Linked DNA regions of Homo sapiens: region 2 is linked to region 1. Evidence: fine-mapped expression QTL. A gene starts in region 1. The other region holds a variant in brackets. All regions are shown on one strand. Distances are from middle to middle. Region 1 holds the start of SYN3 (synapsin III). Region 2 has its middle 28 kb from the start of FBXO7.

What was found. PIP is the estimated chance that this variant, and not a neighbour inherited with it, causes the effect.
Region 2: its variant is fine-mapped to the expression of SYN3 in cerebellar hemisphere (GTEx, PIP 0.93).

The regions. Positions count from the first base shown.
Region 1 is chr22:33,055,516-33,060,885 of GRCh38, forward strand. SYN3 (synapsin III) reads right to left here and starts at 2,866. Exons shown (of 14, transcript NM_003490.4): 1 at 2,777-2,866.
Region 2 is chr22:32,500,240-32,505,609 of GRCh38, forward strand. No RefSeq gene overlaps it. Among named protein-coding and RNA genes, the nearest start is that of FBXO7, 28 kb to the left of the region's middle. RefSeq lists enhancers at 1,294-1,980, 1,981-2,667. The variant G/A (reference allele first, on the strand shown) is at 2,915.

The DNA of each region.
Region 1 (5,370 bases):
TTTCACTCATTTAAGAAATATGTGCTAAACCCTGTGGTAGGCTCTTGGGATGAAGCAATGTATGATCCCCTGGAGTCTGCAGTCTAAAGGGGAGGACCAACAATAGGAAAGTAAATAAAATAGATAAATGACTGTTACGAAGGGAGAATAAAAGGGAGGGAGTACAGAAGGCCTTTCCAAGAAGGTTATATTGAAACTGAAGGCAAGGAGTCAATTGGACAAAGAGCCTGTTATTCTCTATCACATACTGGCTATGCAATGCAATGTTCCACCCCTCAACACTTGCTTTTGATGAATCCAAGCATTTAATGTCTATCTCCTCTAATAGACTGAGCTTTCTCCCCATCACCTAGGATAGCGCCTACTCCTTAAGAGACACTCAATACACATTGATTGATTAATTAGTGGATGAATGAATGATTAATCAATCAATCCACCAATGAAAGCACTTTGGAAAGTGTAACAAATCATAGAGTTGTGAGTGATTGTTATTATTATAATTATTATTTTGTGGCAAAAGAACATCAACTTGGTTGGGTTTTGGAAGAGACTGGGTTTACTATAAAATGAGAATAAAAGTACCTAAGTTGGAGTATTATTGGACAACTAGAAGAGAATGTATATACATAATAGACACTCAAAAAAGGGAAGCAGTAGTCTTCGTGGCTATTATTATTAAAAGCTCCTCACAAAAGCTGACTCAACTCGAATTCCAAAACTCATTTTCAGGTGCAGTCATGAAACTTAAAGGTGAGAGAAATGAATACTTTTAAGATATCTACTATGCACCAGGCACAGTACAAAGCACTACTTCATTTGTGAGGTAGTGTAGTGGATACCGTGGGGAAATGCTCAACTCCCCCTCCAAGACCAAGACACTCATGACTTCCCCATGTCCAGCTGCCAGAGTGTTGGTTACCCCAGCTCCCAGGTGAGTCCCTAGTCAGGAACTGTCCTGCTGAAGGGACATCCTAGCTCCCTCCCTAGGACCAGCCTGCACCCACTGGCTGATCAACATTAAGCTTCAAAGGCCTCGTCTCTTTGTCTCATGGGAGGGATTGAGACCTCTCTTGCACTGCACCATAGATCAACATCTCCCTCTGCCCAGTTCTGCTTCCCTTATCTGCACAAAAATCTCAGAAGCGCCAAGTCTTTTTCCAGGGAACCCAAACCATGACAGGTGAGTACAATGATTTCCTTTTAAATCAGAAAAAGAAGGTTCATGAAGGTTGCTAATGTCCCCAAAGCCTATGGCTAAAGTGACTTTCTGGTCTGATTTCCCAGCGAGCCCTTGTTCTTTCTACTACACCAATCTACACACAGCCTTGCCTCCAATGGCTGAGACTGGATCTCTGTGAAACAGAAAGGGGAGCCCAGGCAGAGGGGAAGGGCACACAGAGGGCTTGAAGATGAGAAAAGAAGAGCAGAGGCACCCTTCAGAGGCCTGATGACAAGACTGAGGTCACAGGCTCCAGAAACAATATCAAAATGATGTGCAGGCTGCAGAAGCAAGCATTACACGGGCAGCATCTCTTTGCCTGAATCCATGTCCAGAAGCCAGGGAGCAGGGCTCCCGGGCAGAGGGGGCTCCCTTAAGCAGGGAAGAGTATTTGCAGCCAAGGACCAGAAAACAACTACAACTTACCAGCTTTCTGATGCTCCGGCCTCCATCCATTGTCCCCAGAGCTGCCAGAGGGACCTGATCACTGATCAGAATTCTTCCACGGCCCTCCTTCATTCCAGGATAAAATTCTAAATATTCTAAGGCTGCACTTTAAGGTCTGTGCAGGTTTTAGCTTCCTGCCATGTCGAGAGCTCATTTCCTACCTACAGCAAGACCCGGTCCTACTCCATTATCTGCTGTAGAATTATCTGATGTGCTAGGTCAGGACACCGGACCTTTTCAGTTTCTTTACCTTTACACAAGAAAACCCACCTGGAATTCCTGCTCCCTATCAACTCACAGTCCCAACACACTTTTCAGCCTGGCAAAACCTCCGACTTCCAGTCAATGCTCACCTCCTCTCTGAAACCTTCCTGGCTTCCTCACCGTCCTCTTCTCCATCTCGAGTCTTCCGCACTACCCTGCACTGCAATTGCTCCTCCTACTGTCCCTCTTAGCCCCAGAAGCTCCCCAAAGGCCATTCTTCATGCTGCTAGGGCTTGGCACAGTTCCTGGCACTCAGAAAAAGCCAAGTAAGTGCTGGATAGATACACGAGGTGCTGTATCCATAGCTATTCTCTGCTTCTAGCTTGGCCAGGAAACCACTCTGAAATTTCATCCTGCCCCCAGGATGACTGGAAATCGGAAATGGCATGACAAACCTGACCTCCCAAACCCAAGGCAACAGGTCATGAGGGGTCTGGGGACCTAAGGCAGGTCCTAGGAGCCGGCGCAGAGCAGAGGTCCGGCCGCTGCGGTTCCTGGTTTCCCGCAAGCTCTTCCCCGGGCCGGGCGCTGGGTGGAGGCAGTCTTAGGATCCACAGTCTTGCGCGCCCCCGGCTCCCGGGCCCGGCAGACGGCCCCCGCACGCCGATCTGTCTGTCCCAGGGACCGGCCCAGGGCCCCGGCAGCGGCAGCCTGGGGAGACACCGTGGTGCGCGGCTCCTTGCCTCCCTCCCTGCCCCTCCGTGCGCCCGCATCCCGCGGACACAGAGCCGGAGCTCCAGGGGACGCAGCCCGACGCGAGAACGCACCAGCAGCCCCCGCTCGAGGTGGGGTCTCCCGGCTGTCAGAAACCCCACAAAGTCTACTTTGCGGCGCCGCGCCGCTTACCGTGCGAGCCGCCAGGAACTCGGCGCCCGGTGGTGCCTCGGCGCGGCGCCCGCCAGTCGATCCGCTCCGGGTCCCGGGAGCTCAGCCTCTGCCCCTCAACGCGCGCGAGCGCCCCCGCCCGGCGGCCCGGCCTCCCCGCGCCGCGGCGCCCCATTGGCTCGGGCAACGAGGCCCCCGGACGGCCCCGCCCACCCGCGCCCACTCCCTCGCCCACGCCTCTCCCCAACGCCTTGCTGGGTTCACCTCTCCAGGCAGGGAAAGTTGCTTCTAGACTCTGAGCTCTCACCGGACTCAGGAGCCCAGTTAGCTAATAATTCTGGGTCCCAGGAGTGTCTAGACGCCCCTCGGGGAGTGCGAAGAATGCAGTGTCCTTGGAATCCACCTTTGGGAAAGTCAGCTGACCTCCCGGACCTCAGGTGGCACCTCAGAGAAACCAGGGCCCCTTGTCAGGAAATGTCCCAGGTTGTGGGCTAGGCCCTAGGGCCAGGATGCAACAGGGAACAAGACAAAGTCTATCGTCCTCGTGGACTTTGCATGGGGTGGAGGTGGGGGTAGGTTATATACAACAAACGAAAAAAACAAGAGAATGTCGGCTGGGTGCCTGTGGCTCACGCCTGTAATCCCAGCACTTTGGGAGGCCGAGGCAGGTGAATCACGAGGTCGGGAGTTCAAGACCAGCCTGGCCAAGATGATAAAACCCCGTCTCTACTAAAAATACAAAAATTAGCTGGGCATGGTGGCCCTCACCTGTAGTCCTAGCTACTCGGGAGGCTGAGGCAGAATTGCTTGGACCCGGGAGGTGGAAGTTACAGTAAGCCGAGTTAGAGCCACTGCACTCCAGCCTGGGCAACAGAGCTAGATGCCGTCTCCAAAAAAAAGAAAAGAAAAAGAAAGGGGTCTAGGACTGCTATACCTAGGGTGGTCTCCGGGCCGCTTGTGATATTGGATACTTGGAGGACAAAAACGATTCCAGGGCTGAAGCAAGAGCATTGCTGACAGAGGGGTCGGCCGATGCATGGTTCTGAAGCTGGAACTGGCCCCCAGGGTGGCTGAGTGAGGTGAGCAAGGGGAGAGTGGGTTACAGCCAGAGAGGTAGACTAGTGTGGAATCACCATCACCCAGAACCTTGTAGGCCACCGTGAGGGTCAGGGCTTTGTCATATCAATCTGGAGGGAACAATTCAGGCAAGAGATTATGGTGATGAAGACCAGGGTGGTGACAGCAAGATACGGAAAAGGTGGACCTCCTGCAATGTGTGTCAAAAGTAGCACAGGAAGGCTTGATGATGGATTAGGCTGGATTTAGGGGATGCTATGGTTTAAATATGTTCCCCAAAGTTCATATCTTGGAAACTTAATCCCCAATGCAACAGTGTTGAGAGGTGGGACCTTTAAGAGGTGATTCCATTAATGCCAGGAGTGGCCCTCTCCCCACCCCTCTGCTGCTCTCTTGTTCTGCCTTGTGCCATGGGGTGACTCAGCATGAAGGCCCTTACCAGATGCAGCCCCTCAATCTTGGACTTCCCAGCCTCCAGAGCCATGAGCTAAATAAATTGTTGTTCCTTATAAATTACCCAGTCTGTGATATTCTGTTATATTGGCACAAAATAGACTATGACAGGGGTTGACGTAAAGGGATGAAAGAAGAAAATCTCCTAGGTGTTTAGCTTGAGCCACTGTGGAGTAATGGTACTATTTCCAAGATCGGGAAGGTTCTTACCCAGCATCTTCCACTTACTGCATGAGCGTTAGTACATGATCTCAGTAACTAAGAGGGAGTGACTCTAACCTCAGTAACTAAGAGGGCATAAGACTAGCTGAAGGATCACAAACTTTAATACCGACGTGGCCGGGTAGTCATGTACTAAGTGAGGTTGGCAGGGTATAATAGAAAGGAGGGATGGGGCTTGTGACAGACTGAGGTATGCACACCTGCCTAAGGTGACAGTCACTGCTCAGCTCCAACTGATTTTTGCCATATGTGAATGGAGACCCACCCAGAGTTGCCAGATGTTCTGTTTTTTGTTTGTTTGTTTTTTATCGAGACTGAGTCCTGCTCTGTCACCCAGGCTAGAGTGCAGTGGTGCGATCTCAGCTCACCGCAACCTCCGCCTCCCTGGTTCAAGCAATTCTCCTGCCTCCCAAGCAGCTGGAATTACAGGCGCCCACCACCACGTCTGGCTAATTTGTGTATTTTTAGTAGAGACAGGGTTTCACCATGTTGGCCAGACTGGTCTCGAACTTCTAACCTCGTGATCTGCCCACCTTGGCCTCCCAAAGTGCTGGGATTATAGGCGTGAGCCACCACACCAGACCCTGATTTTTATTAAGAGGCCAGAAATTCAGATTATGTTAAATCTCTGGTTTTTTTAAATGCTGGTAATTAACTACAACTTTTTTTTTTTTTTTTTCTGAGACGGAGTCTCGCTCTGTCGCCCAGGCTGGATTGCAGTGGATTGTCGAGATTGCAGTGGTGCAATCTCGGCTCACTGCAAGCTCTGCCTTCCGGGTTCACGCCATTCTCCTTCCTCAGCCTCCCAGGTAGCTGGGACTACAGGCGCCCGCCACCACGTCCAGCTAATTTTTTGTATTTTT
Region 2 (5,370 bases), 560 kb before region 1:
AGACGATCCTCAAAGCATTTGCTCTTGAAAAGCTGAATTTATGGTTAGAAGCTTGTGAAATCCTACATTCTTGTCATTAAACTGAGACTGTTGAGCTGTATGTATTGCTGGTGTATAATGAGAGGAAAGTCGTAGTTTCACAGTAGCCTATTCACTGCACAATTTTCTGAGATCACCTGGATGTATTGTCATGGAAGCAAGCAAGAGAGTTTAGAGTGCCACAGCAAGCAAAGCATCTTAGTAAGATGTGGTTCAACATCACTGATTTGTCCTATGCCTTTCTGTAGCCCCTTATTCCCCCCAACTTTTTTTTTTTTTTTGAGATGGAGTCTTGCTCTGTCGCCAGGCTGGAGTGCCGTGGTGCGATCTCGACTCACTGCGACCTCTGCCTCCTGGGTTCCAGCGATTCTCCTGCTTCAGCCTCCTGAGTAGCTGGGACTACAGGTGCCCGCCACCATGCCCAGCTAATTTTTGTATTTTTAGTAGAGATGAGGTTTCACCATGTTGGCCAGGATGGTCTTGATCTCTTGACCTCGTGATCTGCCCACCTCAGCCTCCCAAAGTGCTGAGGTTACAGGCATGAGCCGCTGCGCGTGGCCTCCTCTTTTATTAACAGGAGCTTTCTCTGCCCCATTCCCCCCATTTATAAATGAAAGATAACAGGTTTTATGTGGCTGGGAATCAAATCATGGAAGGTGTCCTTCCAACTTAAGATTTTGAGATTCCTTGTGTAAAAACTGTTGAAGTCTGACTCTTCCTTGGTAGCTGCCTGATTACAGAGCTTCAGAGAGGAGCTGGGCAGGTCCCGGTGCTCTGCTGTGCCATATGCATGAGCAGTGCTCCTTTGGGTAGTCTTCAGTTGACTGTAGAAGGTGTGGAGTGGATAAGATTATTGGGAAGTACTGGGTAAGTCACATAGAACAAAGATTTGATTTAAACTGACTAGCTTAAATGTCACTCCTGGCCGGGCGCGGTGGCTCACACCTGTAATCCCAGCACTTTGGAAGGCCGAGATGGGCGGATCACGAGGTCAGGAGATCAAGACCCTCCTGGCTAACATGGTGAAACCCTGTCTCTACTAAAAATACAAAAAATTAGCCGGGCGTGGTGGCAAGCGCCTGTAGTTCCAGCTACTCGGGAGGCTGAGGCAGGAGAATGGCGTGAACCCGGGAGGTGGAGCTTGTAGTGAGCCGAGGTTGCGCCACTGCACTCCAGCCTGGGTGACAGAGTGAGACTCCGTCTCAAAAAAAAAAAAAAACACAAAAAAGTCCCTCCTGAGATTCCCAATAGGTTACAGCACTTAGTTTCTGCTAAGCCATAGCAAAACATAGTATGTTAACTGAGTGCCAAAGAATGGTGACCTTGCTTCTGCTCTAGACTCAGTGAAAGACCGTGGAGAACAGACACTTAGAATATGAGAGTCTGGAAACAAATTACAGTTGGGAAGACCAATCAGTATAAAAATAATGAAAGGGATTGAGGATTTTCAAGGATTAAAACACGTGTAGCCAGGTGCAGTGGCTCTCACCTGTAATCCCAGCACTTTGGGAGGCCTAGGTGGGAGGATTGCTTGAGGCCAGGGGTTTGAGACCAGCCTGGGCAATATAGCAAGACCGCATCTCTATAAAATAAAGTAAGTGTATTTCATACACACATTGTGGAAAGAATGTTTAGTTTTAGATTGATTTCCCTTGCAGGAATGCCTCACCAGTTCCAAAAAATATTTCCCAACCACTTTCTTCTTTTCCTCTTGGCCTGCCAATTCATCTCAATACAAGGTCTAAGTGTCCACAGCTCATCTCTTTCAGCTGCGTGTCTCGTCCATGGAAACGGGAGCCTCTGTGTCTCTTATGCATTGTGTTTGATAAATGGACGACTTTAACTTACTTGATGCCCAGCCTTCCAATTTGTCTCCTACCAAACCAAAAGTGCTGCCTTCTATTAGAGTCCAGATATTAGACTGAACAGTTAATCAGCAGCAACTTAGGAGTGAGTCTAGGACAGCTTTTGACAATATAGTTAGTAACCAGCCAGCTTGCTTGCCCTCTAGGATAAAGGAAAAGCGGAGACTCTTTTAAAGTGCTCTCAGGCAATGAGCTCTGCTCCAGGATAATTAAGCCACCACTTGTATCTGCAAGGCTGACTTAATGAGCTTAACCCGTGACTAACCTGCATCCTTTCACCAATTCAAAACACATAAAATGAGCCACCAGTGTTTTACAAAGTTGAATAAAGCATAAGAGATTAGTCTGCCCTCAGGGGCTGGAAGGGGCAGAACCTGAAAGGACACTGTGTGCTCCTGGGCTGGTTCGAGCTGAGGCTGTGCTGTTTGGAACTCTGCTGTGTTTGTTGTGTGAAGCACAGTCTGTGTGCTTCCTTTCCTTGGTCCCAGACCTTTGCTGCTTAAGCTGTGGAGTTGTCCTGGTCTGCTCACTCCAACCTCCCTGACCGATGCTGACAATGGCATCTCCCCTACAGCTCACAGCCCTGTAGTCACCTCACCTTCTTGGGGGCTGTCAGGCCTCTGAGCCCAAGCCAAGCCATCGCATCCCCTGTGACTTGCACGTATACGCCCAGATGGCCTGAAGTAACTGAAGAATCACAAAAGAAGTGAAAAGACCCTGCCCTGCCTTAACTGATGACATTCCACCATTGTGATTTGTTCCTGCCCCACCTTAACTGAGTGATTAACCCTGTGAATTTCCTTCTCCTGGCTCAGAAGCTCCCCCACTGAGCACCTTGTGACCCCCGCCCCTGCCCACCAGAGAACAACCCCCTTTGACTGTAATTTTCCATTACCTTCCCAAATCCTATAAAATGGCCCCACCCCTATCTCCCTTTGCTGACTCTCTTTTCGGACTCATCCGGCCTGCACCCAGGTGAAATAAACAGCCATGTTGCTCACACAAAGCCT[G/A]TTTGGTGGTCTCTTCACACGGACGCGCATGAAATTTGGTGCCATGACTCAGATCAGGGGACCTCCCTTGGGAGATCAATCCCCTGTCCTCCTGTTCTTTGCTCCGTGAGAAAGATGCACCTACGACCTCAGGTCCTCAGACCGACCAGCCCAAGGAACATATCACCAATTTTAAATCAGGTAAGCGGTCTCTTCTTACTCTCTTCTCCAACGTCTCTCACTGTCCCTCAACCACTTTCTCCTTTCCACTCTTCAATCTCTCCCTTCTCTTAATTTCAATTCCTTTCATTTTCTGGGAGAGACAAAGGAGACACGTTTTATCCGTGGACCCAAAACTCCGGCGGCGGTCACGGACTGGGAAGGTAGCCTTCCCTTGGTGTTTAATCATTGCAGGGACGCCTCTGATTATTCACCCACGTTTCAAAGGTGTCAGACCACGCACGGACGCCTGCCTTGGTCCTTCACCCTTGGCGGCAAGTCTCGCTTTTCTGGGGAAGGGGCAAGTACCCCAACCCCTTCTCTCCTTGTCTCTACCCCTTCTCTGCTTTCCTGGGGCAGGGGCAAGTACCCCTCAACCTCTTCTTCACCCTTAGCTGCTAGTCCCGCTTTCCTAGGGGGCAAGAACCCCCCAATCGCTTATTTCCACGCCCCAACCTCTTATCTCTGTGCCACAATCGCTTATTTCCGCGCCCCAACCTCTTATCTCTGCGCCCCAATTGCTTATTTCCGCGCCCCAACCTCATCTCTGCGCCCCAATCCCTTATTTCCGCGCCCCAACCTCTTATCTCTGTGCCCCAATCCCTTATTTCCGTGCCCCAACACTTTCTCTGCTTTTCTGGAGGGCAAGAAACCCCCACCCCTTCTGCGTGTCTCTACTCTTTTCTCTGGGCTTGCCTCCTTCGCTATGGGCAAGCTTCCACCTTCCATTCCTCCTTCTTCTCCCTTAGCCTGTATTCTTAAGAACTTAAAACCTCTTCAATTCTCACCTGACCTAAAATCTAAGCGCCTCATTTTCTTCTGCAACACCGCTTGACCCCAATACAAACTCGACAGTAGTTCCAAATAGCCGGAAAACAGCACTTTCAATTTTTCCATCCTACAAGATCTAAATAATTCTTGTCGTAAAATGGGCAAATGGTCTGAGGTGCCTGACGTCCAGGCATTCTTTTACACATCAGTCCCTTCCTAGTCTCTGTGCCCAGTGCAACTCGTCCCAAATCTCCCGCCTGTCCCCTCAGTCCCAACCCCAAGCGTCGCTGAGTCTTTCTAATCTTCCTTTTCTACAGACCCATCTGACCTCTCCCTTCCTCCCCAGCCTGCTCCTTGCCAGGCCAAGCTAGGTCCCAATTCTTCCTCAGCCTCTGCTCCTCCACCCTATAATCTTTTTATCGCCTCCCCTCACACCTGATCCGGCTTACAGTTTCGTTCCGTGACTAGCCCTCCCCCACCTGCCCAGCAATTTACTCTTAAAAAGGTGGCTGGAGAGCTAAAGGCATAGTCAAGGTTAATGCTCCTTTTTCTTTATCCCAAATCAGATAGCGTTTAGGCTCTTTTTCATCAAATATAAAAATCCAGCCCAGTTCATGACTTGTTTGGCAGCGACCCTGAGACGCTTTACAGCCCTAGACCCTAAAAGGTCAAAAGGCCGTCTTATTCTCAATATACATTTTATTACCCAATCTGCTCCCAACATTAAATAAAACTCCAAAAATTGGAATCTGGCCCTCAAACCCCACAACAGGACTTAATTAACCTCACCTTCAAGGTGTGCAATAACAGAAAAAAGTTGCAATTCCTTGCCTCCACTGTGAGACAATCCCCAGTCACATCTCCAGCACACAAGAACTTCCAAACGCAACCAGGCGTTCCTCCGGAACCTCCTCCCCCAGGAGCTTGCTACACGCGCCGGAAATCTGGCCACTGGGCCAAGGAATGCCCGCAGCCCGGGATTCCTCCTAAGCCGCGTCCCATCTGTGCGGGACCCCACTGAAAATCGGACTGTTCAACTCACCTGGCAGCCACTCCCAGAGCCCCTGGAACTCTGGCTCAAGGTTCTCTGACTGACTCCTTCTTGACTTACCGGCTGAAGACTGATGCTGCCTGATCGCCTCAGAAGCCCCGTAGACCATCACGGATGCCGAGCTTTAGGTAACTCTCACGGTGGAGGGTAAGTCCGTCCCCTTCTTAATCAATACGGAGGCTACCCACTCCACATTACCTTCTTTTCAAGGGCCTGTTTCCCTTGCCTCCATAACTGTTGTGGGTATTGACGGCCAGGCTTCTAAACCTCTTAAAACTCCCCAACTCTGGTGCCAACTTAGACAATACTCTTTTAAGCACTCCTTTTTAGTTATCCCCACCTGCCCAGTTCCCTTATTAGGCTGAGACACTTTAACTAAATTATCTGCTTCCCTGACTATTCCTGGACTACATCTATATCTCATTGCCGCCCTTCT